Regions from separate parts of the Homo sapiens genome. Here all the other regions are reported to be linked to region 6. Evidence: microRNA targets listed by miRTarBase, many of them from high-throughput screens and not tested one by one. Region 6 holds a microRNA gene; each other region holds the end of a gene's coding sequence. Distances are from middle to middle.

Evidence for each region. The annotated mature microRNA hsa-miR-4487 reads AGAGCUGGCUGAAGGGCAG and lies in region 6 at 3,077-3,095, shown strand. An mRNA with a match to its seed (bases 2 to 7 or 8) in the 3' UTR can be bound and repressed. Matches are read on the target gene's strand: a 7mer-m8 pairs with bases 2 to 8, a 7mer-A1 pairs with bases 2 to 7 and ends in A, and an 8mer does both.
Region 1: the mRNA of IGSF9B is a reported target of hsa-miR-4487. Seed matches in the 3' UTR shown: 7mer-m8 at 3,613-3,619 and 7mer-m8 at 3,804-3,810.
Region 2: the mRNA of TMEM9 is a reported target of hsa-miR-4487. Seed matches in the 3' UTR shown: 7mer-m8 at 2,257-2,263 and 7mer-m8 at 2,093-2,099.
Region 3: miRTarBase lists MYH15 as a target of hsa-miR-4487. Seed matches in the 3' UTR shown: 7mer-m8 at 2,661-2,667.
Region 4: the mRNA of ANXA6 is a reported target of hsa-miR-4487. Seed matches in the 3' UTR shown: 7mer-m8 at 1,753-1,759.
Region 5: miRTarBase lists PCNX2 as a target of hsa-miR-4487. The part of its 3' UTR that is shown has no 7-base or 8-base seed match.

Annotation. Positions count from the first base shown.
Region 1 is chr11:133,905,427-133,910,832 of GRCh38, reverse strand. IGSF9B (immunoglobulin superfamily member 9B) reads left to right here. Exons shown (of 20, transcript NM_001277285.4): 20 at 1,556-5,406. The coding sequence ends at 1,764. Among named protein-coding and RNA genes, the nearest start is that of MIR4697, 9.5 kb to the right of the region's middle.
Region 2 is chr1:201,133,074-201,136,073 of GRCh38, forward strand. TMEM9 (transmembrane protein 9) reads right to left here. Exons shown (of 5, transcript NM_001288565.2): 5 at 1,699-2,742. The coding sequence ends at 2,590. Among named protein-coding and RNA genes, the nearest start is that of ASCL5, 7.4 kb to the left of the region's middle. RefSeq lists a silencer at 1,474-1,680.
Region 3 is chr3:108,378,003-108,383,408 of GRCh38, forward strand. It overlaps MYH15 (myosin heavy chain 15), which reads right to left. Exons shown (of 41, transcript NM_014981.3): 41 at 2,366-3,557. The coding sequence ends at 3,543. LOC124900545 (a long non-coding RNA gene) reads left to right here and starts at 3,538. Exons shown (of 2, transcript XR_007095998.1): 1 at 3,538-3,649. HHLA2 (HHLA2 member of B7 family) reads left to right here. Exons shown (of 10, transcript NM_001282556.2): 10 at 1-283.
Region 4 is chr5:151,097,720-151,103,125 of GRCh38, reverse strand. ANXA6 (annexin A6) reads left to right here. Exons shown (of 26, transcript NM_001155.5): 26 at 1,619-2,420. The coding sequence ends at 1,678. Among named protein-coding and RNA genes, the nearest start is that of TNIP1, 19 kb to the right of the region's middle. RefSeq lists enhancers at 4,371-4,420, 4,611-4,720.
Region 5 is chr1:232,980,100-232,985,505 of GRCh38, forward strand. It overlaps PCNX2 (pecanex 2), which reads right to left. Exons shown (of 34, transcript NM_014801.4): 34 at 3,336-4,378. The coding sequence ends at 4,205. NTPCR (nucleoside-triphosphatase, cancer-related) reads left to right here. Exons shown (of 5, transcript NM_032324.3): 5 at 1-3,783. Among named protein-coding and RNA genes, the nearest start is that of NTPCR, 32 kb to the left of the region's middle.
Region 6 is chr11:47,397,908-47,403,313 of GRCh38, forward strand. It overlaps MIR4487 (microRNA 4487), which reads left to right and starts at 3,063; the gene lies at 3,063-3,135. All of the region lies in intron 2 of SLC39A13-AS1 (SLC39A13 antisense RNA 1), which reads right to left. RefSeq lists a silencer at 2,122-2,481 and an enhancer at 2,531-3,531.

The DNA of each region.
Region 1 (5,406 bases), 87 Mb from region 6:
TATAGTTTTTATATATGTATAACATATATTTCTTTATTGCAAAAAAAAGTCACATCAGAGACCTGCATTGTCTCTTGTTCTGATGGCAGTGGTCCTGTTACCAGTTCTGTGGTGGCATCTTCCAAATGTCTGTCTTTAGCCCAGGTCCCTTCCCTGAGGTCATGGCTGATATTTCCAGTTGCCAGCTGAACGTGCACTTGGGTGTTTCATACGCCTTTACGATGTCTAAAGCAGAGTTATTGATCAGCCTCTCCAGGTCTGCTTCTCCTCAGCTCTTCCTCGGTTTAATCACTAGCACTGGTACCCACTGGGGTGTCAGGCCCCTTAATTCCCAGATTCTTCCCTTGCCTTCACATCTTACGTCGAGCCCGCTAGGTAATGCCTGTTAGCTCAGCCTTTGCAACATATCCTGAATCTGGCCACTTTCTGTTGTCTCTATTGCTAACTCTGTGTTCTGAGTCACTGTCTGTCCCACCTTGACTATTGCAGTACCTCGTGGCTGGTGTTCCAGCCCTATCCTTGTACCTTGCACCGTGGACTCCACACACAGCCACCACGGCGAACTGCAGGACACGTAGCGGCATCCTCTCTTTCAGTTACGAACACACACGTGCAGGCGTGTGTGCACATACACAAACACACACACACTTCTGATTAAAACCTCCCCATCGTAACCAGATTCCCATCGTAACCAGAACAGATTTCAAGCTCCTAGATGCCCTGCCTGTCTTTCTTGCCTCACTCTTTTCCAACTGAGATGACCTCCCTTCTGTATCGGGGACACACCACATTTACCCTTAACTTGGGGCTTGCACACATGCCATTTCTTCTGTTGGGAATAATTTTTCTTCAGATCTGTGGAAGGCTCATAATTTAAGATGCAATTCAAGTGTTAACCCTTTAAGGAGCGGAGTAGTGCCTCAGTTGACCCTATTTTATCTTTGTAGTATTTTCAGTAACTGCAAATTTTATTTCTGTGTTTTTAAAGTCTTGACAGTTTGTCTCTTCCTCTGCACCCTCACATGGATGCATAGTCTTTGAAGCTAGCAAAGGCATTCCTGATTAATCTCCAGAAGGGCCATGAGGCAGAGGAGAGGCCCAGGCAGTCCAGGAAGGGTCAAGGCCTGACCGTTGCATGCGATTAAAATCTTGTATAAAGTCGGTCATTGCTTGGGGCAGATGAGAAAGATGTCCTGAGTCCCAGCCTGTTCCTTCCTGATCCCCAGTCCCTAGAATGATGCCTAGTACTCAAGAGGCACTAAAAGAAATATTTGTAGACTGATCGAGAAAGAAATGAATGAGAAGGAAAATCCTCTCCATTCCACTTTCTTAACTCTTATTCAAGTGAAAGGAGCAGGGTCAGGTTGCTGGTTGTCTTGGCGGAAAAGAAGGTGGTTTCTCTGCAGCAATTCGGTCTGGTCTCTCTAGACTCAGGTGATTCCTTTGTTTCAACATTAGAAACCCGGAACAAATGCAGGTGGAAAAGGTGAGCAGGCTGCGTGCTTCCTTTTCATCCGCTTGCTTCTCTTTTGCGTCCCTCTTCCTTTCTTCCTAGACGATTCTGCCTCCCAGACTCAGCAGCTTCCCAACTCTCAGGTTCTGTGGCCCGATGAAGCTGTCTGCCTCCGAAAGAAGAAGAGACATTCTCGTCCTGACCCCTTTGCCCGGCTCTCAGACTTGTGCCACCGCCAGCTTCCGGAAGACCAGACAGCGATTCTCAACAGTGTGGACCACGATGACCCAGGACATGCCACTTTGCTGTGACTCCACCCCACTCTAGGTGTCCCCGGGGCGAGGTTGCTGGGCTCAGGCAGGGAGGGCCACTGTGTGGGGGTGTGTCCTCCTCCGTCTGCCAAGGGCGGCCCAGACCTTTGTCCTGCATGCCCCCTCTTTTGCCAGAGCGGGTGTCTCCCTCCAGATCCTGGCCGCCTGTCTTCAGGACGGAGGGTGGGCACACCTTCCACCTGTGGGTCGAGGTCAGGAAGTGGATTGGAGACTGGGCAACACCTGTCTCCTCCCCTCCGCCCCCTGCTTCACTAGGTTGATTTTTCTCATCTCTTCCAATGTCTTTGGAAGTGAAGAGGAAAGCAATGGCTTTTACTGCTCTCTGCTTCTGTTTCAGTTTTTCAAGTCCTGGAAGAAGGCTGGACTTAATGTCCATCTTCCACACCCCACATATATATAGATATAGATACAGATGCATATGTCTGTAGTGTGTGGGTTTCTCTATGTGTGTATATATATATATATATATGTACATTGAGGCAAAGTGCTGTTGCTCTCTGTGGTCAGTGGAGGCAGGAGGAGGAGGGCAGTGGCCAGCTGGGGTTTGCGAGCAGGGCTGGCTGCACGTTGGCCAGGTGCCTGACATCTGTCTTGGGGGATTCTTTCTCCCAAAACAAGATCCGTGTCTCTCAGCTGAATTCTCCGTGTGTCTCCTACCTTCTCCCACCCAGAGCAGAAATGGGGCCTTGCTGTGATTACCGGCTGCCTTCTATGGGGGTTCAGTAATGAGTTACTGCAGAACTAAATTCAAGCCTTTGTTTCTTGGTTCCTGGGTGAAGAAGGGGTGGCCAGGCTCCTAGACCTGCATCTTTCTTCCTTCCAGCGTGGCTCACGCTGCAGGAGTAGAGGCTAACTCAGCCGCGGGGCTAAAGCAAGCCTCTGGTGCACATGTCCAGCGCATCCGTCGGCGCCCTTCCGCCCAGCCAGGCCGTGAGCTCTGTGGCCAAAGTCTCCCCACTGCGGAGCCACCTGTGCTAGCGCCAAGCTGCCGGCTCTATTTATACCGTCCCCGGCTCAGCACTCTGTGCAGTGCTGTTCCACAGCGGCTGATTGGATCCTCCTTTGCTTTTGTGGGAGCTAATTCTCCAGATTGATTAATTACCACTTGTGCGGAGCCGCCTGTGGCTTTCCCGCACTCACCACGTGCTGCCTGCCGACTCTTCTCTGCCCCGGGGCCTTCGTCCTCCGGTGGACCTGAGCTGCAGGGGGATGAGCTCAGGTGAAGCTAGGGCGCCTCTGGCTGCTGGGGCCTGGGACGCTCTGGATCCTGCCCTCTTTGCCCAGTTCTATTCTGTGGCTGAGGCGTAGGAATGAAGGCGGGAGGGGTGGTGAGTAGGGTCTGGGCACTGACTCTTCCTCTGCCAAAGTCTGGTCCTGGTTCAAACTCGTAGCATCCAGAAGCTTCCTGAGATCATCTTCCCACTAAGATGTCTCTCTGCCGGTAAGATATGGTGCTGCCCAAGGGCAGGGCAGAAGGCCCCGAGGGCGGGGTGGAGGGGAGATCTGCCCCTCCCCCACTCTTGTGTAGGAGCCCCCCTTCTGGCTTGGCTTAGAATGAAGGTTCCTTGAAGTATTTCCTTCTTGGTGCTGCTGTCTTGGTGGGTTTGGGGGCACCCACCTCTCCCGAGTTCCCTGCTTGGACGTGAGCCACGGCAGCATTGGATGGCTTCTGCTGGTCTCATGCAGCTGCCATGGGCTTGGCCCAGTGACCTCGCAGGATGAGGCCTTGGATGGCTGCTGTCTCTTCTTGGCGTTTCCATCTTAGGGGATGGACTTCTTCTGTGCCACACCGGCCCTGGTCCTTCCTTTCACCCAGGGAGCTGAGGACCAGCTCCACCCTTGAGGTTTACCGTGCAAGTAACACCACCGCAGTTCCTTTCTGAACACATCTGAAGGGGTCATGGTGAGAGAGGCACGCAGGGGCTTCTGAGACTGGGCCGTGCACCCTTGGGGTGGAACCTGGGCCTTCCAGTTGATGTGCTTCTCTGGGGCGTTGGAATCCACTTGACCACTGGGCACCAGCTCTGCGAGATGGAAGAGCACACAACTCTTTGTGTTCTTTTTTCCAGGTAGCACACCCTCTGCCCCCGCGTCGTGATGTGCTGCTCACTTGGGCGTCTCTCCTGGGGGATGACGGGAGCCGGCTTACCTGAGGTGTTGGGGTGGGAGGTGGGGGCTTACCGCAAGCTGACGTGCAGCCTTTATGCACTGGCAGTGTGAGATTTCTACCCCAGAGGAGCTCACGGGGCTCAGCCAGGCCCTGGGATGCACTGGGATGTGGGCATCAGGCTGTCAGCCTTCAGGATGAATTTGGCCTACTTTTCTGAGCACCCTCCTGGGAATTCCAGCCCTCAGGTTAGAAAAGAAGAGGAGATGATGAGGTAGAAGGCTTTGCTTCTTTCGGATGTCATGAGAGGCTGAGATGCTCAGGCCATGGCTGTGCCTTCCAGGGCACCCCCGTGCTAACCCAGGTGCTGACTCCTCCTCCGCTTCCTCTGGCAGTGCCCATGACCTCAGCACGTAGACCCAACGCGGGGAGCCGTGCTTTTCGCTGGTCACCGAGTGGCTGCTGTGCTGTGGCTTCCCTGGCTAGGGCAAGGACGTCAGGTCTGCCCATCTCTCAGTGGCCTGCCACTCATTCAGCTCCCCTGAGGGCTTCCTCCTGTGACAGTGTCCTCGGAGGCCAGCAGCCCTCCTGCAGCCCGTGGACGGCGATGGGATTGGTGGAACGCAGTTCCCTCCGTGGATAGAGGGTGAAGATGTCACAGGCACAAGTTTAGGTGCTGGGTGTGGGCATGTGTGACAGCGTGGTTGTGAGCATGTGGGTGATGGGGGTGTAACCACCTCTAGGGACCAGTGTCCTTCATAGTCTGCCTTTGAACAATGGCAGTGACTACTGATCAGCTTCTTAGGACTTCGGCACTCACTCTGTAGGAGATCACGCCTTCCAAACTTCCCCTTTTACGGTCTGGCGGCCTTGCAGTAGACACGACTCAGATGTAAACCTGCTTCTGTGTCTCAGATGTCTGTCTGCCTCTTCAGCATCATGGCTGAGAACTGTGGCTGTTGTAGTGTCAGGTGACCCACAGACCAGGAAGAGGGGAAAACGGTTCTTAGCGGGGCCTGGACAACTGCATTTGCGTGGGGAGAGAAGATGTACGACGAGGCAGAGAGGCGAAGCCTGTCTTGATTTGCTGGTGGGCTGCCGTGGGCTCCCTGGTGCTGAGCGGGGTCCTGTGCTGGATTGTTGGGGTGGCTCTGGGCCCAGCATCTGGGAGTGGCCCTGCCTGCTGCCAGTCTGCCTCTAAGCAGCTTCCCTGGAGAGACTGGGGGTAGGACAGGCCTTTTGAGATCCTACTTTCTTAGCAGGAAGGACGCCTTTTTCCCAGCAGGCTGGCGGGGTCTGTGCCCTCCTTTGAGGTGCTTAGTCCCACAACCATGCGCTTGGGGGAAGACTGAAGCCGGGTGGATTGAGCCGAGTATTTCTTGTTATTTTTCCATGCTCTCTGTCTTTATTTTTGATTTGTGATCTAAAATATTTGGGGTTGAACTGATTTAATTTATTCCTCTGCCCTTTTTGTGCTGAGGAAACTGGGGTAAGGTTCAAATGTGAAATTTTCT
Region 2 (3,000 bases), not on the chromosome of region 6:
CGTTTGGTTACTAGTTGAATCCTTAGTAAAGTGAACAGTCACTCCTAATCTTTTATAAATGTTCATATACTGGACTTATAGTTCGGCTTATTTATAGTTAACAACAGTTGTCCCAAAAACCACCAAAGCCAGTTTGGATCATCTGCAGGACTTACCCAAGCCTCAGAGAAATATAGCACTCAATGTTTCCCCCAGGGCATGTGGTTTTACAGGGGAGACCTGGCAATGTTAGGCACCAATTTCTGGCCTGGTTATTCTTGCTAAGTTAATACACCCACCTGCCCACCTTTGGAAAGTGCTGCTTTTGTATGCCTCTTGAAATAAGAGCATCCCCATCCTGAAAGAATAAAATAGCCCACTGTAGCTTCCACAGCAGTACTTGACCCTGGTAGGCACTGAGCAGCTGTCTAGTAAATGACCCAGTAGAAATGTTGTCAGCACCAACTCCTCTGTCCCAGCCTTGCATTTGGGGGCACATCTATCGCTTGCTAGCCCTACCACAAACTTCCTAAGTGCACTTGCTCAGGACCCCACAATCCACTTGGTCCCCTCTCAGCTGTGTCCCTTGTTTCCAATGCCAACCAGAGTCTCTGCTCCTCCTGGGAGCCCCATCTGCAGGTCACCCCAGTCCCATCCCCTTTACGCTTCTGTCTTGGAACTTTGGCAAACTGTTGCAAACTGACCCCCCATCTCACGTCGTTCTCTTGCCTCCCACACCTCTCCAAGAACCCAGCATGGGGGCCCACACAAAGGTTTTTTTTTGTTTGTTTTGTTTTGTTTTGAGACGGAGTCTTGCTTTGTTCCCCAGGCTGGAGTGCAGTGGCGCGATCTCAGCTCACTGCAAGCTCCGCCTGCCGGGTTCATGCCATTCTCCTGCCTCAGCCTCCCGAGTAGCTGGGACTACAGGTGCTCGCCACCATGCCCAGCAAATTTTTTGTATTTTTTTTAGTAGAGATGGGGTTTCACCGTGTTAGCCAGGATGGTCTTGATCTCCTGACCTCATGATCCGCCCGCCTCGGCCTCCCAATGTGCTGGGATTACAGGCGTGAGCCACCGCGCCCAGCCCACAAAGGTTCTTAATCCATGTTTATTTGGACAACCCTGATGACACCAGATCAGCTCAGTCCCTCTAGATGCCTTGCCTCTGCCTGGGTCTTGGACATGCCCTGCACCGCACATCCATACTGGAGCTGACGCAGTGCCGGGCTCCCCTGGATGTCCCTGTTGAAGCTGCTGGCATTTCCTTCTGTATGGGGCAGCTCGTTTTCTAGCTGCCCCCACCCACCCCTCTCCAAATACCTGTTGGTTTTCATTTGGGGATACTTACAGGTTTTGCAGGGAGCGCTATTTACTGTGTCTGTAGGATATTAGGATGAATCACGCACTGTTCAGTTTCAGAGGAACTGCCCATAAACATGAAGTAAAATCTCAGGATAACTCCCAAGGGCCAGTTCACCCTGTGCTCCTTGCCCCAGCCTACCCACCTCTTTCCTAATCAGGTGAGGAGGACTTCCAGCAAGCCGTGGCCTTGGCCTGATTGCACTGTGGCTGGCTCTGCCACGGCCGCCTGGACTTCCCAAGGCTCTGCCTGTCTGGACCTAGCAAAACGCAATGCTCTCTGTCCCCTCTGGGATACTACATTTACCAGGTCACTTGTGAAAAATTCCTAGTTCCCTAAATCTCTTAAAAACCAGAAAGTGAGAGAAATAAAACAATTTAATGATGGCTTCCTTGATTTACACACAACTCTAAGACAAGAGGACAAAATTTTCTCTCCATGCACTGGTACAACGAAGTTCAGGGACAAGAGGCAACCCAAGTACAGGGGCTGTGGTGTTCAGATCCACGCTCAGCCTCGAGTCTCATGTTCCAACCGACCGTCTGGCTCAGTGACTGTGGACACTGGGGAGAGGAGGGACTGCCCAGACCCCTCAAGTGCAGGTGAGGGGACCGGCAGCAGAGTATGCATGGGCACTCCATGCCCCAGTGCGAGAAGTGCACAGGGGACAGCGAACACCAGCTTCCAGTGCACCCTGAAGACCCAGTGGGCTCAGGGGGCCCAGCTCTCCCATCAGAGCTGTCCTCAGGGCTGGAGCTGGGGCTGGGGCTGAGGCGCTGGGGCTGGGAGGGAGGTGGTGATAAGAACCACTGCAGAAAGGAACACATGCTGAATGCTGGGCCATGCTTTCCTCCCAGACACTGAGTTCCTGAAGACCCAGCTTTATCTTCCAAGGGTAACAACATTCCCAAGACTCAGAGCTGGAAGGCGGCAAGAGTGGAGCCAGGAGAGACAGATCGCATCCACTCCTGAGGCCGCCTCGAATGTCTCCATTCCCTTCTGGCCTGCCTTCCCCCTCCCTTCAACCCCAAAGACCCAAGAAGACAACAGAGATCAGAGACCACATCCCTCTTCCCTAATCAAAATAGCCAAGTACAACATTTCTAAAGTTAGGGAGAAGGAGGAAAAATGCCACAGGCTTTTAAAGGGAAGACTGGAACCGAGGGAAGGGAGAAGTAGCCCCCTGCTTTGTCCAGCCTGGAAGCTGGCAGCCATGGTGTTGGGGCCTTGACCCAACCACACCAGCCCATCTAGCTGAGCATCTTGTGCCGATCGAAGACTGTCTTCCGCTGCTCCTGCACCTGCAGCTTCCACCGCTGCTGGGCACCTTCCACACGCTCCAGGACTGTGTTTGCTCGGGGTCCCCCGAGGGATGCAGCAGCTGCTGCCATAGAGCGAGCATCCTGTAGTGGGAAGAAAAAAAGAGAAGATCTGGCACGGTAAGCCAGAAGGGTCTTGGATCCTGAAAGTCTGACATGGAAAGAACGAACCCCAAAGCCTTACCTTCCCCAGACTGGGAGGCTGGGCCTCCCCAAGTGCTGCAGGCTGAGGACCTTGCCTTGTCATCTGCAGAGCTGAACACAGTGTGCCAGGTCTGCTGGAAGCCTTAGTGTCTGTAGCATCTGCAGGATGGGGCCCCTGCCCCTCCCTGGGGCCTGGGA
Region 3 (5,406 bases), not on the chromosome of region 6:
TCCTGCCCCACCCTAACTGATCAATGTACTTTGTAATCTCCCCCACCCTTAAGAAGGTACTTTGTAATCTTCCCCACCCTTAAGAAGGTTCTTTGTAATTCTCCCCACCCTTGAGAATGTACTTTGTGAGATCCACCCTGCCCACAAAACATTGCTCTTAACTTCACCGCCTAACCCAAAACCTATAAGAACTAATGATAATCCATCACCCTTCGCTGACTCTCTTTTCGGACTCAGCCCACCTGCACCCAGGTGAAATAAACAGCTTTATTGCTCACACAAAGCCTGTTTGGTGGTCTCTTCACATGGATGCACATGAAACTATGAACATAAGAATCTCTGAAGTTAGGTTACACTTGACCACACAAGGCTTGCATAGTTGAGTGACTAGCCATGAAGATAATTTAAACAACTCTTCTGGCTCAATTGGCATATTGCTAATCAATCTTCTAATAAATTTAGATTTTCATATAAATTTTTAAGCAAGAGAAGGGAGAACTCAGCTAACCTAATCTGTTTCCCTTAATTTTAGTCATCAATTTACATAAAAGAAACAGTCTAATGTTAATGCTTGTGAACTTGTCACTATAACCAGGCTTTTGTGTGACTTAGTAGATCAAGGTTTCAACTCTATAAGAGAAAGCAAATTCTGAATTGTGGTGTAACTGCCACCTGGTCCAATTTTATCTGACCTCAGTTTCACAATCCTCTCCTTGTATGTAGTTAACTCTGTTTTTGCTACAATGTTGTGATGGGTTATCACAAATAGCAAAGTATTAAGAATTCCAGTCAGAATGTTAATTATTAAAAAGTCAAACAATAGATGCTGGCAAGGCTGTGGAGAAACAGGAATGCCTTTACACTCTTGGTGGGAATGTAAATTAGTTCAACCATTGTGGAAGACTGTGTGGCGATTCCTCAAGGATCTAGAAACAGAAATACCATTTGAACCAGCAATCCCATTACTGGGTATATACCCAAAGGATTATAAATCATTCTACTATAAAGACACATGCACATGTATGTTTATTGCACTATTTACAATAGTAAAGACATGGAACCAACCCGAATACCCATCAATGGTAGACTGGATAAAGAAAATGTGATACAAACACCATGGAATACTATGCAGCCATGAAAAGGAATGAGATCATGTCCTTTGCATGGACATGGATGAAGCTGGAAGCCATCATTATCAGCAAACTAACACAGGAACAGAAAACCAAACCACATGTTCTCACTCATAAGTGGGAGCTGAACAAGGAGAACACATGGACACAGGGAGGGGAACAACACACACCAGGGCCTGTTGCAGGGTGGGGGGCGGGGGAGGGAACCTAGAGGACGGTTCAATAGGTACAGCAAACCACCATGGCACACATATACCTATGTAACAAACCTGCATGTTCTGCACGTGTATCCCAGAACTTACTTAAAGTAAATTTTTTTTAAAAAAATAAATATAACTTAGATATCTTTTAAAAAAATTCCATTGTGAAGAAAAACTCCATTGAGATAATATTTGTCTACCATCTCTGCTTCCCCCTAGCCTTGGTTCCTTTTTAAAAATTGTGTCCTAGTGAGAGAACATGATACTTAATAACAAAACTGGATGCATCCCCAAGCTGAAGTTTTACTTTACTGAGTATGTGCCTGGGGTGTGGAGAAACAATAGCATCCTAACTTCAGGATTGGTAATATGACAACAGCAAATTTCTAAGAAAAGGTTTGGGATATAGAGATGTTTCCTGAATATAAACATTGGCTTATTAAAGGATAATTCCAAACATTTTTTACTGAAGTTTTAAAAAATTACTATTCCAGGAAAAAAAAAAAACCCTAGAAAAGTTCCATGTTAAATGTTTCATGTTGTTTTCTCATTGCGTTAAGACCGATGGTAAGAAGGAGCGACTGCTTTGGATACAGCCCGACACACATACCTGCTAGTTCACTCTGTGGCTGTGCATCCCTCTCCGCCAACCACAAAACTCAAATTTGGTTCACCTTGCTCAAAATGGTACCCTGATTTTTCAAGAGCATCCACTTTGATCTGTCTGAGCCAACCCTGACAATTGCAGTCCTCTTGCCACTAGACTGGTTCAGCATAAGCAGATAAAGAAATCTGCTCACTAGGGTATGAGGAAAATTATTCCAGAGGTCTGTTTCTGGGAAAGTGTTTCTCCATTTTAAGAAGAGACAGGTTATCGTATGGGGAGAAAATGCTCAGGACTGCTGAAGTCCTCTTACGGCGACAAGAGATTCCGACAAGAATGAACCTGGGTCCTCTGATACCACTGAGTCCCTGAATTAATCGTCAAGCTACCCATATGAGTCAGGGTTGGATCAGGGAGGCAGAATCAGAGAATGACAGAATAAAGATTTATTATAGAGCTTCAGCCTTACACAATTGTGGGTGCTGGTGGAGAAGTCTAGGCCAGGCTGTTCCCTCTGCATCTGGTTCTGGGCCTGAAGTCACTGTAGGTCGACTGTGAATGCAGCAAGGATGAAGGGAAGTCCATAAGAACAAACAGAACCCATGTCTGTCTCACGGCCTCCACTGCAATGCTGTGTGTGATCTCAGGAAAAGCTGATGCTGGTTGCCATGGAGCTGCACACACACCTGGCCAGTACTTTGCAAAGCTGAAGGAGGAGGCTGGCAGGAGCTGGAAGAGCTCTGGGTCCAGGGAGCTGTCTCTGGTCTCTTCTAGCTCCCCTTTTTGGCCTGGAGTCATATTTTCAAGCTGTCACCATGCTTGGGTCTGTACACTGACCTTATGAGTATAAAATAGCTGCTGATCAAATTAATGCAAATTTCTTTATGACCTACTCCAATCCAGAACCATGAGAGAGAGGAATTCCGGGACATGTTCCTCCAGCTGAGCCAAATCGGTACTGCACAAATCCAGCATATTACCTGTCACTGAATGTCTCGTGTGGGGTTACCTCCATGTTTAAAGCATGTACCAGCATATAGCCTACATGTGTGTTGATTAGGAGAGTTTTGCCTACATGTTCAAATTGCCTAACTATAGCTATATTTATATCACAATGCTGAGGAGATCTTATGACTTCCATTCTACCACTGCTGGCTCACAATATACATTCATAGATTTAGGGGTGAATCAAGCCAAAGTTGCCTAACTTTAGTAAAAACCATTCACCAACATGCCCTAGTCCCCATGAAGCGTGACTGGTCTAAGGACATCTTCTATGAGTCCTACCCATTAAGAGGAAATATGGACAAAGGATCAAGTATTTATTCATTTTTTAAACATCAGAATTGAAAAGGTTCTTCCATTTATTTAATCTGTCATGTGAAGCATTAGAAGGTAGTTTACTTGCATTTGAGGATCAAAAAATCCCCATTAACTGTGGAAGCAATGATATTCCCTTTAATTATTTTTCTAATTGCCTTGTTTATATGGTGTGAAAAGCAATTTAAACATGTTTTTAAAAATGTTTCCATGCAACCTAAGTTTTTGGCCATGAAACAGCACCTTCCTTGTACTTCTCCAGCTGTTGTCCTTTCAAAGCAGGGGATGCTATTCTTCTTGAACCTGAAAAACAGAATGTCAGTGTGTTCTGTGAATTTCCTGTGATTTTCACCAGTGGAACACATGTCCAGAACCAAGCTGAGTCCCTTCCAGAGGTAAGCAGGCCTTAGCCAACTCTTCATTAACTTCAAAGGGAGGCAGGGAATTGAGGCAATTATCTGCATTACAGAAAGCAGACCCTGGTAATTCACCCCAAGGGCATGCTCGGTCACTCTCAATTTTCTGCCTGCCTTGTCTTGCCAATGAAGGCAGCGCCCCCCTTTGCCAACCCCATAAGGAGAAAGATTCTGCAGCCACATCACCAGTTTGCTCCCCAGCCCTGACACAGAATTCTATCAGCAAACCTCTTCCTTGTGCATATGACAGTTGAGGATTTTTTGGCTTTTCTTCTGTGAAGGGGAAACAATTAGTCATTGCACTGCCAAGGAAGGTTTTCCTATTCCTCTCTGGCCTCTCAAAAGCAATTTCTACTTCACTCACTCTGTTCTTTGTTGAAAATAACTGTGACAAAGTCGAATGCATGGCATCTGTTTTGAAGGCCCTTCAACCTCCTGCAGCTGAATGCAATTGCAGCACATGGGAAGCACCTCCCTAAACAAGTCATTACATGGGGTTGCTGGTGGGCTCTGCAGAGAAGACCCTAAATCCAGTGCCACAACACTTCTCAAATTGAGGCCAAAGTTCAAACCACTTAATTGCCCCTCTCGCATAGGACTTATCCTTGAGGCAGCTATTCAGGCATCAGTAAAAAATTTCTGGAGTCTCTCAATGATTCATATTTCTTATATTTAGATCTAAGTATATTCAATATAACCAACTCTTAGGCTCTCCTTCAAAAGAGATGCTTTTGACCTCCCTTAAGGTAGTATTTATGCATATTATTGGCAACCCTATCAACTTACCTTGCAGGGTTACTAGTAATTCAGTTAGGGCCTGGATTCATTTGTATAAAATAATCAGGAGTCCATGGAACAAAGATGATTTTAAAAAGCACAGATGGATCGGCTCAAAATTTGGAGTGAACTCTTTCCATAGTAGACACATGTGTGACTTTTTACCATGTCAATATGGAGTCCAAGAGGGAAGACGTTTAAGATTGAGGCAGTGAAGGAAAACAAATGCAAGAGTCTTGCTTTGTAGTTCTCTGCTTTATATTCCTGATTCTGCCCGAAAACACAGAGAAAGAGGGCTGGTGATGCACCACGTTTAAAAAAAAAATAATAATAATGAAATGATGGTGCCTAACTATGCCAGAAGCTATGCTCAGTGATTTCAGGCAATCTATTAGCTAATACCACATTATCCAATCTCCTTTGATTCCTTTCGCCTAAAGCCAGACCTCGTTTAAAAACTGTGTGTTCCTGGGAAAATTTCAACAAGGAAGCCAAGACTACCTGACCCTACCAAACATTTAGTACATTGTTCTTTGTCACTCTACCAGTAAAATCAGGGCAATGGCCTCTACCATTAGATTAGAAGAGCCATTTTGTGGACCAAAGAGACATAGAAAGATCCTTTCTCTGTGTTTTTGGGCAGAATCAGGAATATAAAGCAGAGAACTACAAAGCAAGACTCTGGTATTTGTTTTCCTTCACTGCCTCAATTTTAAACATCTTCCCTCTTGGACTCCAAATTGATATGGTACAAAGTCACGTATGTGTCTACTGTGGAAAGAGTTCATTCTGAATTTTGAGCCGATCCATCTGTGCTTTTTAAAATCAACTTTGTTCCATGGACTCCTGACTACTTTACACTAATGAATCCAGGCCCTAAATCTTAGATCCTGCAAGTTAACATGGAAGTAAGCATTTGAAAAGTATAAATACAATGTGCATGTCACTCAAATGCTTAG
Region 4 (5,406 bases), not on the chromosome of region 6:
ACTCAGGAGGCTGAGGCAAGAGAATCGCTTGAACCCAGGAGGTAGAGGTTGCAGTGAGCTGAGATCACGCCACTGCACTCCAGCCTGGGCAACAGAGCAAGACTCCATCTCAAAAACAGACAAACAAACAAACGAAAAACTTACATATCATAAAATTCACCTGTTTTAAGGGTACAATTCAACAGTTTTTAGTAAATTTACTGAGTTGTACAACCATTCCCATAATGCAGCTGGTTTCCAAACACTTCTATCATCCCACTAAGCTCTCTCATACCTGTTTATCTAGTTCCATCCCCAGCCATAGGCAACCACCAAGCTACTTTGTGTCTCTGTAGATTTGCCTTTTCTGAATATTTCATATAAATGGAATCACCTAATATGTGACCCTTTGTGTCTGACTTTTTGTTTGTTTGTTTGTTTTTGAGACGGAGTCTTGCTCTGTCGCCCAGGCTGGAGTGCAGCAGTGCCATCTCATCTCACTGCAACGTCCACCTCCTGGGTTTAAGCAATTCTCCTGCCTCAGCCTCCCGAGTAGCTGGGACTGCAGGCATGCATCACTATGCCTGGCTAATTTTTGTATTTTTAGTACAGACAGGGTTTCACTGTGTTGGCCAGGCTGGTTGCTAGCTCCTGACCTCAAGTGATCCACCTGCCTTGGCCTCCCAAAGTGCTGGGATTACAGGTGTGAGCCACCACACCTGGCTGCGTCTGACTTTTTTGACATATGGAGCTTATATTTTTGCTCTTTGAGATCAGCCAAGATCTTAAAGTCTGATGCTTGGTTCTACTTGGCTAACGAGACTATGGGCATCTCAGAGGCAGTCTCTTACAGACTTAGTAGGAATGTAAGTAAATTGTTGGCACATTTTGATACTATATTATGTTTTAAAATCATACATCAAAAAATACAAGGACAAACAAAATCCCGAAAACCATGTCTCATAACAATGATAGGAGTCCCTCAGAAGGGAGATCCATACCATACCATGGGTCAGGAAGTTTGGCCTCCCCAGTCTGAACGTATACCAGACCACTGTGATGTGTGGTGAGCGTGATGGTGTTTGTACCCATTCCCAGCAATGGCTTGGCAGTTAGCACTCAATGTTGTTTGTTCAAATAAGAAATCACCTAACACGATATGCCAAGGGCCATGGGGGAGGGTATCAGCAGAGTGCCAGGGGAACCAAGGGAGGCCAGAGTTCACTGTGCCTCCTGACGCAAGAGAGTGGCCAGAGTGCTTCTCAGAGGAGAGGGCCCTGCTGGCAAATGGGATTGGGGGTGCACAGGGGCATGTTGGACAGGGGAGTGACAGGTGGAGAGAGGACTGAGATGCTCCTGGGGGAAAGGAACAGGTGAAGCTGCAGAGCTCTGCACAGGTCAGATCCCAAAGGGCCTTGAAGCCAGGCCGGGAGCTTGCATATCTTCCTGGGGATAAACAAAAGGGACGTGGTCACATTTATGTGTCTGGGAGATCCCAGTAGCCTACATGTGGCATGGGATCCTATGTTGGTCATGGAGAGAAGCCGAGGGAGATGTCCAGACAGATGGGCAGCCGGGAGGAGGGGGCATTGAGACTGGAAGGACTGTTTTCACTCACTCTGCTCTCTGCCTCTGCCAGGGTGACACCTCCGGAGACTTCCTGAAGGCCTTGCTGGCTCTCTGTGGTGGTGAGGACTAGGGCCACAGCTTTGGCGGGCACTTCTGCCAAGAAATGGTTATCAGCACCAGCCGCCATGGCCAAGCCTGATTGTTCCAGCTCCAGAGACTAAGGAAGGGGCAGGGGTGGGGGGAGGGGTTGGGTTGGGCTCTTATCTTCAGTGGAGCTTAGGAAACGCTCCCACTCCCACGGGCCATCGAGGGCCCAGCACGGCTGAGCGGCTGAAAAACCGTAGCCATAGATCCTGTCCACCTCCACTCCCCTCTGACCCTCAGGCTTTCCCAGCTTCCTCCCCTTGCTACAGCCTCTGCCCTGGTTTGGGCTATGTCAGATCCAAAAACATCCTGAACCTCTGTCTGTAAAATGAGTAGTGTCTGTACTTTGAATGAGGGGGTTGGTGGCAGGGGCCAGTTGAATGTGCTGGGCGGGGTGGTGGGAAGGATAGTAAATGTGCTGGGGCAAACTGACAAATCTTCCCATCCATTTCACCACCCATCTCCATCCAGGCCGCGCTAGAGTACTGGACCAGGAATTTGGATGCCTGGGTTCAAATCTGCATCTGCCATGCACTTGTTTCTGACCTTAGGCCAGCCCCTTTCCCTCCCTGAGTCTCTATTTTCTTATCTACAATGAGACAGTTGGACAAAAAAATCTTGGCTTCCCTTCTAACATTAACTTCCTAAAGTATGCCTCCGATTCATTCCCTTGACACTTTTTATTTCTAAGGAAGAAATAAAAAGAGATACACAAACACATAAACACATTTCCAGTGAGGGCCTCTGTCTTCTACCTAGAGCCTGCAGCCTGGATTTTCCTCATTAGAGCTTGAGGTTGTAAAGTCTGTCCAGGAGCGAGTTACGTCTTTAAATTCTTGCAAGGTGTTTCCCGGGAAGCGCACAGGAGAATCTGAGTTTGCAGCAAGCCTGGGAAGGCTGGCCCAGCCCTGCTCCGGGCCTCAGGTTCCCCCTCATCCCCTCTCGCTGTCTGGACATTTCTGTATGCTCTTCATCCATTTCAACCAAGCCCAAACTTCCTCTTTTGAACTATGCAAGGGTGCCCGATGTGATCTTGATCTGGAGAGGTGCATGGAAAGTTTCCTTCATGCAGGTCACTGATAAGCAAGTAGGCGCAACTGCAGTTCCTCTGCCTTCCCTCCCCCGCTGCCCTACTTCTGGTCTGTGGCTTTGGTCTAAGATTGTCCAGTGACCATGGCATGGGGCTGGCTGCTGGCCAAAGGGCACTTCTCCCTACCCTGGCTGACCAGACTAGTTTATTGCAGGTTAGCGCGTGTTTGTTTTCTTTTCTTTCTTTTCTTTTTCTTCTTTTTTTTTTTTTTTGAGATGGACTTTCGCTCTTGTTGCCCAGGCTGGAGTGCAATGGCATGAATTTGGCTCACTGCCACCTCTGCCTCCCGGGTTCAAGCGATTCTCCTGCCTCAGCTTCCCGAGTAGCTGGGATTACAGACATGTGCTACCACACCTGGCTAATTTTGTATTTTTAATAGAGATGGAGTTTCTCCATGTTGGTCAGGCTGGTCTCGAACTCCTGATCTCAGGTGATCCACCCGCCTTGGCCTCCCAAAGTGCTGGGATTACAGGCGTGAGCCACCGTGCGCGGCGCATGTGTTTGTTTTCATAGCTGTGAAGACAGCAACAGGCAGGTGAGAGAGTCTGGTCTCGTCCCTCCCTCACTTGTGACCTCAGACCAGCCATTGCCCTCACTGGGCCTCAGTTACTCCAACTTTATAGTGGGGGGTTGGATCCAACAATTTTGAAGAGCTCTCTCTTAATCTCTGACATAATGAGTCTGAAACAAAGAAAAGTTACCTTACCGTGTCTTTACTTCCTTTCTTCTGGGCTGTGAACTCAAGTGCCTTGAGGGCCAGCTAAGAGCTTTTTGGGATATTTGTCTAACTTAATTGAACTGTTACTGAAAGATAAATTAACAAAATGGTTCAGAGTTTTGGATTAAGACCTTTGTAACTAACTGACCGTCAGCACAGGAGCTTCGGTTTCCTTCTCTGTAAAACAGGGCTCCTCATTCCAATTCCACCTATCCTGTAGCCTTGTGGGAATAAAAGGAGGCACCACGTGGAGGTGCTTGGCAGGGTGCGTGCCTGGCTCGGAGTCAGTCTCACTACCTGCCCCGAACCAGGCTCAGTTGTAGGGGCTGAAAGGTGGAGCCCATGATGCTTTATGGCTTTGATTTCATGAAGTCCGTCAGCTGCAGATCACAAAGGCATTTGAACCCAAAAAGAAAAGTGCCTTAAAATATATACTGAGGGAAATGGGCTTGGGGCAGAAAGGAAAGAAGAGTGGAATCAGGGAATAGAAGTGAGGAGAGCCCATGGAGCTGAGGGGAACACAGAAGAGGAGGCCTAGAAACCAGGAATGAGGACAGCTAAAATCGGGCAGTAGCTGTCTGATGCCTCCCTAATGCCTCAGCATGCATTTTCCACATAATTTTCAGTTAAGGTAGTTGCATTCTGGTACTGGTCGGTAGCAGGAAGGAAACCCTAAGAGTTTGTGAGGTGAGGTAGACAAGATGAGAAGTGACAGTTTGTCTCCAATTAAGGAGGACTTTAAATGTCAGGATTTTCTCTGATAACCTAGGGGAAGCCTTTGGAGTTCTTGAGTGGGGAAGGTGTGCGTCTAGCTATGCTCTGAGGACAAATGTAGGAAGGCAGGGTGCCATTCGGGAGCCTTTTGCAACGGTCCTACTAAGAGCTCGGTGCCAGCTGAACAAACCACATTTTTTTCTTGGAGTTTTAGCAGAGGAGGAGAGTAGCCACTGTTCTGAACCAGAGCACCCCATTCATGCATGCATGCAGTTTACACTTAATGAGTGGCTCCTATGTTCCATGCCACGTGCTAGGTGCAAAACATACAAACCAATGTGGTTCTGGTGCTTAAGGAGCTTCCACTGAGTGTCCCTCCTGCTCAGCTCTCTCCAAAATGACACTGGAGATTGCTTCTGTGGCCAAAGTTTAATCGGGAGAAGCGATGGGGGCTAATTTAAAACTAAAAGGAAAGAGAAAGCAGAAGCCCAAACCGCTGCTGTCTCAAAGTGGGAGAAAGGGAGGCTGGCTGTGATGTTCTAAGGGTAGAAGGGGCCCTCAGAAATTCTCACCTCCCTCCCTCACTTGCAGATGAAACAACTGTCACTTCCACAGAGAGGAAGCAACTGGCCCAGGGTACATAGCAAGCTAGCAGCAGACAGAACTGGAATTGCCATCCCGGCCAGGGCCGGTGCTTTTAGAAGCACCCTGTGTTTTCTCCTTTTGTCGTCACCTGTGGAGGTGGGCTTCAATACTCTCTAGCTCCTCACTGCTCCCCCTCCTGCCTTGAGCCTTGCATTTTCCCTTTAGGGCAAACTGTTACAAGCTCTGAACTGGGATGGGCCAATCTTGGTCTTTGGGGCCACTAGGAAATACCCGAAGGAAGTTGCCCATTGGGAGGGGGGGTGCCCTTTTAACCTGAGCAGAGAGCAGCTATTTAGGAATTGCCACTCAACCTCCTGCCCGTGGCGGTGGTGTGGGAACCGCTGGCTGTTTAAAGTTTCCCTATGGCCAGGTGCCGTGGCCCGTGCCTGTAACCCCAGCACTTTGGGAGGCCAAAGTGGGCAGATCGCTTGAGCCCAGTTCAAGACCAGCCTGTGTGTAGCAAAACCCCGTCTCTACAAAAAATAGGAAAAAAAAATGCTGGAGGTAGTGGTGTATGCCTGCAGTCTCGAGAGGCTGAGGTGGGAGG
Region 5 (5,406 bases), not on the chromosome of region 6:
CTTAAATGAGAAAGAAAGCTGGTGAAGGTTATTTCAAAGTTAAATAGCTAGTCTGAGGGGCTTATCACTGAAGCCAGTTGTGCTTATGTGGGGTGGGAGTGTCACTGCCTACTTGAAAGTATGCACTTGTGTGGAACAGATTCAGGGTGGCCCCTAGCACTTGGGGCTGCGGGAGCTTCTGCACACTTTCCCTTTAACGGTAAAGAGACAAGCTTGGAGTGTTTAAGTGGTTCGTTCAGGAGCACAGTGATAGCGGTGACAAAGGAGATTTGAACCCACGTCTGCGTGGCTCCAAAGTTCACTCTTTCATCACTCCCTGCTGCGTCCTTCTTGAGGCTTTAGCATTTTTAGTGTGTTTTGTGCCCCCAGACCTCAGAGTTGACATTTAGCAGTGATAAACTGCTGTAAATCCAAAGAACGTTTAGTGTCTCTTGTGGTGAGGTCCTGAAATGATTGTTGTATTAGTCAAACAGAATGATCATGGAGCATGTATGGAGATGTCAGATGCAATCCCTGTATTGTAAGGCAATGACATTTAATGAAGGATAAGATGAATTCACAGATAACTAGAACTCAGGGCCAAACGCACACAGCCTGTAGCAACAGTGTCATGCTGAGATTTAAAGGAAGAAGAGGTGCCGTGGCAGAACTCCACGTGACCGTCCCCTCCCTGCACGCAGCCAGGATGAGAGGAGCAGAGCTGAGCGCCACCTCCCTGTCGGTGCCACGGCTGAGGTGAGGAGCTCTTGCCGGATGGTGGGGTGGGGGCAGCAGGGCAGATTGAAGTCAGGGATTCTCTTATACCTGAGTTTGGAATGCCTCCTATTCAAACAAAGCAAAATATCTAACAGATGGTTGGATATGAGTCTCAGGGAGGAATTCAATTTGAAAAGCACAGAATTAACATGTATTGCTTATATGAAGAATCTCAGCTAGAATAACAAGGTCGGATGGGAGGAATCAGGACTGATTTGAAGCACGATTTACTAAATCATTCTTTCCTTTTCCTCCTTAGCAGATCATACCGCCAGCTGCTTAACACGTAATAGTTTAATAAATTGTTTCTTCTTACCTCTCAGTGAGGGTAAGCACATGCAGGGAGATGGGTGAGTCTTTTAAATGGATAGTGTCATCTCTGATGATCAGCCTTGACAGGGAGAGATCCTAGTAAAGCTGCAAATTCAGGCACTCAGTTCCCAGCCCTCCAGTTATCAAGGGGGTGGGAACGCTGGTGGGCTGGAAAATGTGGAACAGACCTGCTCCTCTTCTTTTCCTGCCAATTACCGTATTCATAGAAGGTTGTGTCTGTGGATCACACCTGTGTGTGTGCTGATGGCGGATGCTTGTGTAGCATAGTGACTTGGGACAAAACAGCATGGTAGATGAGGCTGGAGACGGGTGGGCTAAGTAAACAGGCATTGCATTGCACATTTTGTGGGCAAAGAAGTTGAAGCATCGCATGATTTTAACAAATTACTTGCCAGATGATTTCAACACACTGCAAAATTTAGAATCAATAATGCCAAATTGGCCACATGATTTATATAAAACCAAGTGCTATGGTTTTAATATTATCTTTAGAGGAGAAACCATTTTGATCTGTGTCCAAATAACTCTTTTTTTTTTTTTTTTTTTTGAGACAGAGTCTCACTCTGTCGCTTGAGCTGGAGTGCAGTGGTGCTATCTCGGCTCACTGTAACCTCCGCCTCCTGGGTTCAAGCGATTCTCCTGCCTCAACCTCCTGAGTAGCTGGGATTACAGGCACCCGCCACCACGCCCAGCTAATTTTTTGTATTTTTAGTAGAGACGGGGTTTCACCATGTTGGCCAAGCTGGTCTCGAACTCCTGACCTCATGATTTGCCTGCCTCAGCCTACAAAAGTGCTGGGATTACAGGCGTGAGCCACCGTGCCCAGCCCCCAAATAACTCTTGAACTGGAAAATAACTCTTTAGCTATATACTGGCAGAATATTTGAACAACTCTAGCAAGAAATGTCAGTTTAGGGATGCCTCCTCTAAATGGGGGCTTAGAATATAACATTTTGCAGGAAGTCCTTTCTGATACATAGCTGACTAGATGAAGGACCAGATTAACAAGTTCATGAGTTGTAAATATAAAAGTTGTGTACCACGATAAAAAAGAAAAAGAAGTATGGCTGCACTGTTGATGGCTGGTCAAACAGCCCCCAAGAATCCTGGGGTGACTCCAATACTGCCACCTTTTCTCTGTGGGTGCAGTTGCCTGCGGATGTGTGTGCACATCTGTGCCTCGGTATGCACACTCGAGATGCCCGCTCTCATAGACGGTGCAGAGCGTCACTGCATTCCTATCTGATTAATGTGACCTTAGTGTTGTAGATACACTGTGTCACTTTCATCCTCCCTCCTCCCCACAAAAGATGCCACGAGAACTCGTGAACTGTGATAAGCAATGAACAGAATAACTGTTGAAGAAGCACCTCATGAACCTCCCCAGAGAAACGGGATGGAGGAGCACCCAGGGTGCTCTTGCTCTCTTGCCTGCGCTGCCATTTCCTTCCAGCCTGGGTTTCTAGCTCTTTGGGGAGATTCCCCGTTTTGTGGAATGCTTTCTGTGTTTCCTACTTCTGGATGCCTAAGGAGTGGCCAGTCATACTCCTGGCTGACCACTGCCAGGCACCGTGGTTTTCCTCACTGAACTCAAGGAGTCACCCTCCGTGGGGAGGCCACACTCACAGCTCCAGGCCTGCCATTTAGCCCTTGGGGCTTGGCTGTAAAGTTGCCCAAGAGGATTACAGGAGCTGCCAGCCAAGTTTAATTTGGCCACCTTAGAGAACTGCAGCAAGGCCCTATCAGCTTCCCATTAGACAAACAACTGCATTTAAATTAAATAAAGTTTGCACCTCTAGGGAGTGCTGACCTGAAAATAAGAACCTTCTGTCTGTGATTATAGAGTACACTTGCTTTTATTAATTGCTGATTCTTAGTTTACAAAAAAAAAAATTAGAAAAGCATTACCATTTACTTTCCAAGGGGCAAGAGATTCTCTACAATACCCTTCCCCCAACCCTCTCCTCAAATTTCCAAATCCTAAATACTTTGAAGAAATTTGTGTGACTGTTTAAAATTGAGTATTTCCTTCTAACTATTGTCTTTTGAAAAGGGATGGTTCACCAGGCCAGTGATACTCTATGGACTGCATTTTGGGACCTCTACCCCAGCAAGGATACAGGTTCCTGGGGTCTTGAAGATGGGAAAAGTTGTCTCAGAATTTACCCAAATGTCGTTCTCACCATAAAAGATATACTTGTAGAAATGAGAAGCTTCAGTATAACTCAAAACACTGGACGCAGCAATAACTATAAACATTTTAATTTCAAAAACAAAGGTGTGTGCGATGTTGTGTGCACAGTAAGGGTTGCGGGGCTTGGAGAACAAGCACGCGTCCCTGTGAAGCCCGCAGGGTGCTGGCGGCCCACCAATCGCCTGGACTACAGTGAGGAGCATTGTGTGACTCCGCGGTGGATTTCCATGCACCGAATGGACTCAGTTTCTAAACTCACATCCTAACGTATCCTGGCTTTTCACAGAATACTGGAGACATGACTGCATGCATGATCACGGTTCTTGTTGTGAAGCTGCCACCATGTTACGCTTAACAGCTGCATAAATATTATAAAGAAATAGGGTTTTCTTGACACTTAGATTTAACCTTAATGCATCTGCCCAGCTGATGGTATCAGACGTGCTGCTGTTCATTTCTTTTTCATGGTAACAGTAATGTATAAAGTGCCGATGATGTAACATGCAGTTGTCTTATTTTCATCAGGGCATTTGTTTCATGGCTCTGTTGAGTTGTTTTAAGTTAGTGAATGGCTTTTGAGATTTCAGATTCTGGAACATGTGTGGTGCTGTCCGCGGTGTGCCGCTCTGGGCAGCGCTGTGCCTGGCCAGGGAGGTGTGGTGTGGCTTCTTTGTTGCTTTTTTTTGTTTCCCCATCATGTGAGGTTTTTTTGTTGTTGTTGTTTGATTTTTTTTTTTTTTTTTTTTTTTTTTTCAAAAACCTGAGATCAGTTCTGTGTTCTGGAACAGCTCTCCTTTTCCACAGGAGGAGTCCCTCATGGATCGCGGTATTGGTTGGTTGTGGTGATTTGGGGAGCACGAGGGAGAGCAATGCAGGTGGGAGGTGTGGGGGAGCCAGCCTCCCCGCCCGGCCGCACGCCCGTCACTGCTCGTCTGACACACTTTGCTGCGAGGCCGTGTCGTCCAGGCCCATGTCCTCCTGGCTTGCTCTCCTGCAGACAACCCCGAGAGTGTCCGCCACAGCCTCAGCCAGACATCGGTCATGAAGCTGCCCCTGCTCGGTGGCATCAGGGGGCTCACATGGCTCGGAGAGGTGCTTCCAAAGAGAAGAGAGAAACAGTGAACAGCTCAGCAAACGTTCACTACCCACTTCTAACTGGCATCACCCCCATCCGTGCTGTGGGAGCTAAAGGCTAGCGCTGCCATATCCTTGAGGTCAGGTTCTAAAGTCAGGTCAAATGATAGAGGGCCAGCACAGTGGCCTCTGAGGACAGGACGGGCAACTGAAGCAGCATCTGAGACACAGGGGCTCTGCACGTGGGCCTTTCTGGATGACTGCGCTGGAAAGAGCGGCCCTGGGGGGAAGGGGCATTTGTGCGCCTGGCTTTCTAGCTGTAGTCAGTGTCACTTCATGCACACTTAGCCCCTGTCATGAATGCTGAGTTCTAGCAGGCTTGACCCCAGTAGAACACAGAGGCCATTGTATTCTGGGGGCATGTGGTCCCTACGACAATTGTCCATTTTGGAGAGCAGGAAGGAGAATTTGACAGAATCCCAGAACTACACCCATAGATTGTGACTTTAACACAGATTGGGGCATGGAGAAGGGTGATACTTTGTACATTTTTATTGAGGAAATAAAGAAAAGGGAGGGGAAATGTATTCTTTTAGTTATCTAACTAAGGTCAAACTCCTGAAGTAACCACCTCTTTCCTCTTGGCCAGGACAGCCTGGGGGTTCCAGGAAAGCCCATAAATCTCCCCTTCCATGAAAGGTGGCACCCATGGCTGCAATCCTGTGGCTCCTTGTAGGGCGGCCGGCCCAGCCTTGGCTTCCCCTGGCAGGAAGGTACTTCCCTGGAGAGCTGTTTCCCATGAAGGAGAGGGAGGGTGACACTAGAAATGTTCAGGTGCAGCCCCCCGTCTCCACCTGCAAATAACCTCACCCAGAACCAGAGGCCAAGCCACTGCAACTCTGGTGCTTGATGGAAAGCATGAGCCATGGTAAGGAAAACCTGAACACTCAAAAGGAGTGGGGGAACTCTCCAAACCTGACCCATTTTTGCCTTGACACCATCGATTTTCCCTGTCTACCAGGTCACATAGGAGCACTGCTGGGTATTTA
Region 6 (5,406 bases):
AACTCAGTTTTCCTGTGTGCCCATCCAGTGGAAGTCCCATGCAAACCCTGAGGCAAAGCAGCATCTCTTTGGAAAAAGACTTCAAGCCTTTTAGAGTCTCACTGCTGCCTCCAGGCCCACGGCCACCACCTCTTCCCAGCTCCCCTACCCTGTCCCTATTCTCAGTTGTCCTGCTTCTCCTGGTCCAGGCTGGAGGATATCAGAGTTGAAAAAATTCCAGCCTCAGGTGCCCATGGGACCAGAGAGATGATAAAATCCAGAAAGGGGATGAGCCAGGCTCCCCTTGGCTCTCAGCCCTGGGCATGAACACGTAACAGTGGGACTTAACTCCCTGGGAGACAGGCCCAAAGAGGCAGCATTCCTGGTGGTGAGACCTGAGTGCATCTGCACCAGACATTTCCGCATTTAAATCTCAGCTCTGCAATGGAGAGACCACCCCCTGGGTAAGTGACAACATGAAAATGGGAGAAAATGCCTCTCCTGGCCTGGAGATCTCACAGGAGGGAAATGTGTTTCTAACAGCCATGGGCCCAGCCCTCCTTCAGGCACCGGCTCTGTCCAGTAGGTACGATTATTACTCCCATTTTACATACGAGGAAACCCAGGGAAAAGAGATGTCCCAAGGTCACACAGCCTTGCAGGGGCTTGAACCCCAATCCTGTCTAACTCCAAGTCCCATGCACTTACATATACCTGAGAGCCCCTCCTTCCTTTTCTCCTAGGAGTTCTTCTGTACCTTCCTAGCTTGCAGGGTTGGGGCCCTGGGTGGCAAGTTGAACCATGACTGGATGGGACTGGAGGGCTTGGCCCTGCCTGGCTGAGGCTGCAGTCTGCAAATACCTGACTGCCCTTGCTCTTGGTTGGGCTGAGGGACTGCTGCCTGGGCATGCAAGGGGTTGGGGACCAGCTGCAGCGGCACCTCCCTGACATATTGCCTTGGGCCACCCTGCCCTCTAAGCTTGTTGGTGTCTGACTTTCTTGGGAGAGGGGTATAACCCCTTCCAGGGGGCCTGCATGGTGGGGCTGAGACACTAAGAAAGCTGCATTTGAGCTTCCTCACTGGCTCAGCTCCTTCTGAGGCCCTGGAAGGGGTCTCAGCAATTTTGTTTTTGTTTTTTATTTTTTTGGTTTTTTTTTTGATGAAGTCTCACTCTATTGCCCAGGCTGGAATGCAGTGACACAATCTCGGCTCACTGCAACCTCTGCCTCCCGGGTTCAAGTAATTTTGCTGCCTCAGCCTCCCGAGTAGCTGGGACTACAGGAGAGCGCCACCACGCCTGGCTAATTATTTTATTTTATGTTTTGTATTTTTAGTAGAGACAGGATTTCACCACGTTGGCCAGGCTGGTCTCGAACTCCTGACCTCAGGTGATCCACCCACCTTGGCCTCCCAAAGTGTTGAGATTACAGGTGTGAGCCACCGCGAACGGCTGTTTTGTTTTGTTTTGTTTTGTTTTTGTTTTTTGTTTTGAGACAGAGTTTAGCTCTGTCACCCAGACTGGAGTGCAGTGGTGCGATCATCTCAGCTCACTGCAACCTCTGCCTCCCGGGTTCAACGATTCTCCTGCCTCAGTCTCCCGAGTAGCTGGGATTACAGGCGCCCACCATCACGTCCAGCTAATTTGTGTATTTTAGTAGAGACAGGGTTTCACCATGTTGGCCAGGCTGGTCTGGAACTCCTGACGTCAAGTGATCCGCCCACCTTGGCTTCCCAAGGTGCTGGGATTACAGGTGTGAGCCACTGCGCCCAGCCTCTCAGCAATTTTGTATTTGTGACTTTGTAATCTTTTCCTTAAAGAGTGCCCCCCCAAATGGTTTTAAGCTTCAGGCTCCTGGGAACCTAGATCTGTCCCCAGGGTGGGGCGGTGGAAAGCGTTCCAACCCCCTCCCACTTGCTTTTTGCATGCTGGCTCTGGGGCTTTGGGTGAAACTCCCCACTTTGCCATCTATACAATGGGGATGAATGAGGCGATGCGATGCTTAGAGGACCCTCTGTTCAAAACTCGCCCAACCCACAGAGACCTTCACAAGCCTGCACTTGGTCCATCACCAACAGCCCTGTGGGGAAAACCGAGCTCCTACCCCCATTTTCCAGCTGAGATAACTGAGGCGTGAAGCCCCGCTGCCGCTCGTCGCTGAGGCTGTGAGCAGGCTGGAGCCTCATCCCCCACTGCTCCCTGGGGTCTCCTCCCGGGATGCCAAGCCTGGGTAGCAGGAGGGGGTCTCCAGGGTGCGGGGGCGCTCTGGGGAGGCCGGGGGCGGAGGCGGTGTCCCGCACTGTCCCACCGCAGGGCCGACCTCGGCCCTTATCTGCTCCGGCAGCTTCCGCCCCCCAACTCCAGCCCCCGCCGCAGGCCCGGCCCCCGGCCCCGCCCCCCTAGGGCCCCTCCCCCGCGCCGCCCGCCCCCAGGGGAGCGCCCGAGCTGCCCGGCTGCGGCCCAGTCGAGCGGAGAGGGGGCCCAGCCCCCCCAGGTGGGCAGCCGGAAGTGATAAATAACCGAGACGGGGGGGGGGGGACACCATTGCAGTGAGGCCCGAGTTGTCCCGGGATACTCGCCCACAACCCAATAGGAGCTCCCCAAACTAAGTTGTCTTCGCCAAAAATGGGAGGGGGTCTGAGAAGGAAGAGGAAAGGGGTTCCTTAAGGCCCCAGGGACAAGAGGAACAGTGGAGTCAGTTTAAACAGGGCTCTGAGAGGCACACGACCTCCCCCCACACTAACAATGCCAAGTGGCCTCCCTGGGACAGGTGTGGGGGGGGGAGAGAGAAGCGGAGACACCTCAGAGAAAGTGAAAAGGAAGTCACAACTGGAGATGCCTGCGGAGTGCAGCGGGGCATAGCCTCAAAAATACATAAGGAACTCTTGCAAATCAAGGAAAAGAAAATCAAGCAATCCAATATAAAAAAATAGATAACACACACGCAGCGCAGGCATGTTAGGGCAGAGAAAACGAATTTGCTCAAATACCATCTAAGGGAGGCTCAGCCTCACTGCTGATGAGGGCGATGCAAATTCAGACCACAATGAGATGCTATTTACACCATCTGAAGGGCAGAAGGGAACTGTCCTTCAGCCAGAGCTGGCTGAAGGGCAGAAGGGAACTGTCCTTCAGCCAGAGCTGGCTGAAGGGCAGAAGGGAACTGTCCTTCAGCCAGAGCTGGCAAGGAGGGGAGCAGCAGGCCCTCCTGCATGTGGCTAGTCAGGATGCGGCTCCAAATAGCCCCCTAGGGAGAGCAATCTGGCCTTATCTCACGAAGTGGAGGTACAGAGGCTGTCACCCACACATCCCCCCAGGCAGCAAATCAAGATAAGTTCTCTGACAAGTGCGCCAAGAGACAGGGACAAAAATATTCACGTTGTCCCTAATAGCAAAAAAAATCCTGAAATAACCCCAGGGCCCACTGATAAGAGAATGGATAAATAAATTACAGTAGACACATTCACAGGGTGGAGATCATTCAGCAATGCAAGCAGGTGACCCACAGGTTCACCAATATCATGAAGGAATCTTTGCACCATGGTATTGAGTGGAAAAAGTCAGTCCCAGAAGATGGATACTTGCGGCTCTCTGTATCCCTGGGTTCCACATCCATGGATTCAACCAACCTCGGATGGAAAATATTTGGAGAAAAAAATGGATGGTTGTGTCTGTACTAAACATGTACAGACTTTTTTTCTTGTCATTGTTCCCCAAACAATACCATGTAACAGCGATTAACATAGCATTTACATTGTTTTCGGCAATCTAGAGATGATTTAAAGTATATGGGAGGATGTGGTAGGCTAAATATGCAAATATTTAATACCACACCATTTTATATCAGGGATTGAGCATCTGTGGATTTTGGTATCCTCAGGGGGTCTTGGAACCAACTCCCCCCCATCCCCGCCAGGACGCCAAAGGACAGCTGTCCTTACCCTTCTCATGAAGTTCAAAACCAAGCCAAGCCATATCTTTACAAATAACAATGTTCCTTCCCTGTTTCTAATACCTTTGTTATTAGGAGATGGTATGATTACCCACATAAAAGACTCTAGGCTGGGCATGGTAGCCCAAGCCTGTGTCCCTAGCACTTTGGGAGGCCAGGAGTTCAAGACCAGCCTGGGCAACATGGCAAAACCCCATCTCTACAAAAAATACCAAAAAAAAATTAGCCGAGCATGGTGGTTTGTGCCTGTGGTCCCAGCTACTTGGGAGGCTGAAGTGGGAGGATCATTTGAGCCCAGAAGGCCGAGGTTGTGGTCAGCGGAGATTGTGCTATACTCCAGCATGGGCAACGGAGTGAGACTCTGTCTCAAAAAAAAAAAAAAAAAAAAAAAAAAAAAAATATATATATATATATATATATATATATATCCCCACAAATATAAAATATCTAGAAGTAAACTTGGTAATAATTATGCAGAACCTATAGGAAAACAATTGTTAAATTCACTAAATAATGTAAAACCTTAAAATAGTTTTTTTTTTAAAAAAGCCAATTCAAATGGAATATTGTCTAGGTATACATACATATGTCAGAAAAAGCTTTATCAAAAAAATAAAAGCAAGAGTCAGGTGTGGTGGTGTGTGCCTGTAGTCCTAGCTTCTTGGGAGACTGGGGCCAGAGGACCATGTGAGCCCGGAAGCTTGAGACCAGCCTGGGCAACAATTTTAAAAAAATTTTAAAATTAAAATTAAAATCTCTAATTTTAAAAAAAGAAAGGCCAGGCGTGGTGGCTCACACCTGTAATCCCAGCACTTTGGGAGGCCGAGACCAGCGAATCACTTGAGGTCAGGAGTTCAAGACCAGCCTGGCCAACATGGTGAAACCCTGTTTCTACTAAAAACACAAAAATTAGCTGGGCATGGTGGGCGCCTATAGTCCCAGCTTCTCGGGAGGCTGAGGCAGGAGAATCGCTTGAACCTGGGAGGCAGGGGTTGTAGTGAGCTGAGATTGCGCCACTGCTCTGCAGCCTGGGTGACAGAGCTAGAATCTGTCTCAAAAAGAAAAAAAGAAAGAAAGAAAAATAAAAAGCAAAGGACTGATCATCACAAAATTCAGGTTTCACTGAAGGAGGAGACAGGGAGATGGGATAGGGGAAGGGTAACAAGTAAGGAAAGATGTAAATCAACACAAAAATTAAACAAGAGCCTTGCAGGGACCAAAAGGGCAGTGCAGAACGCACAAGGATTTCACCCCAATTTGTGCACCTGAGACAAGAGAAGGGGAATGGGAGACATGAAATTGATTTGGATAAACTTTTATTCAGAGTATGGGCAAAAGCTTGCTTTTTCTAGCAGCCCACACCTGGCAGGGAAAGAGGCCTGTGTATCCAGGGGACAAGGCTAAGGGATCCAAAGACACACCGACATGCAGAGCCTTCAGAATGGACAGGTCAGGAAGGCTGCAGGGAGGAGGTGG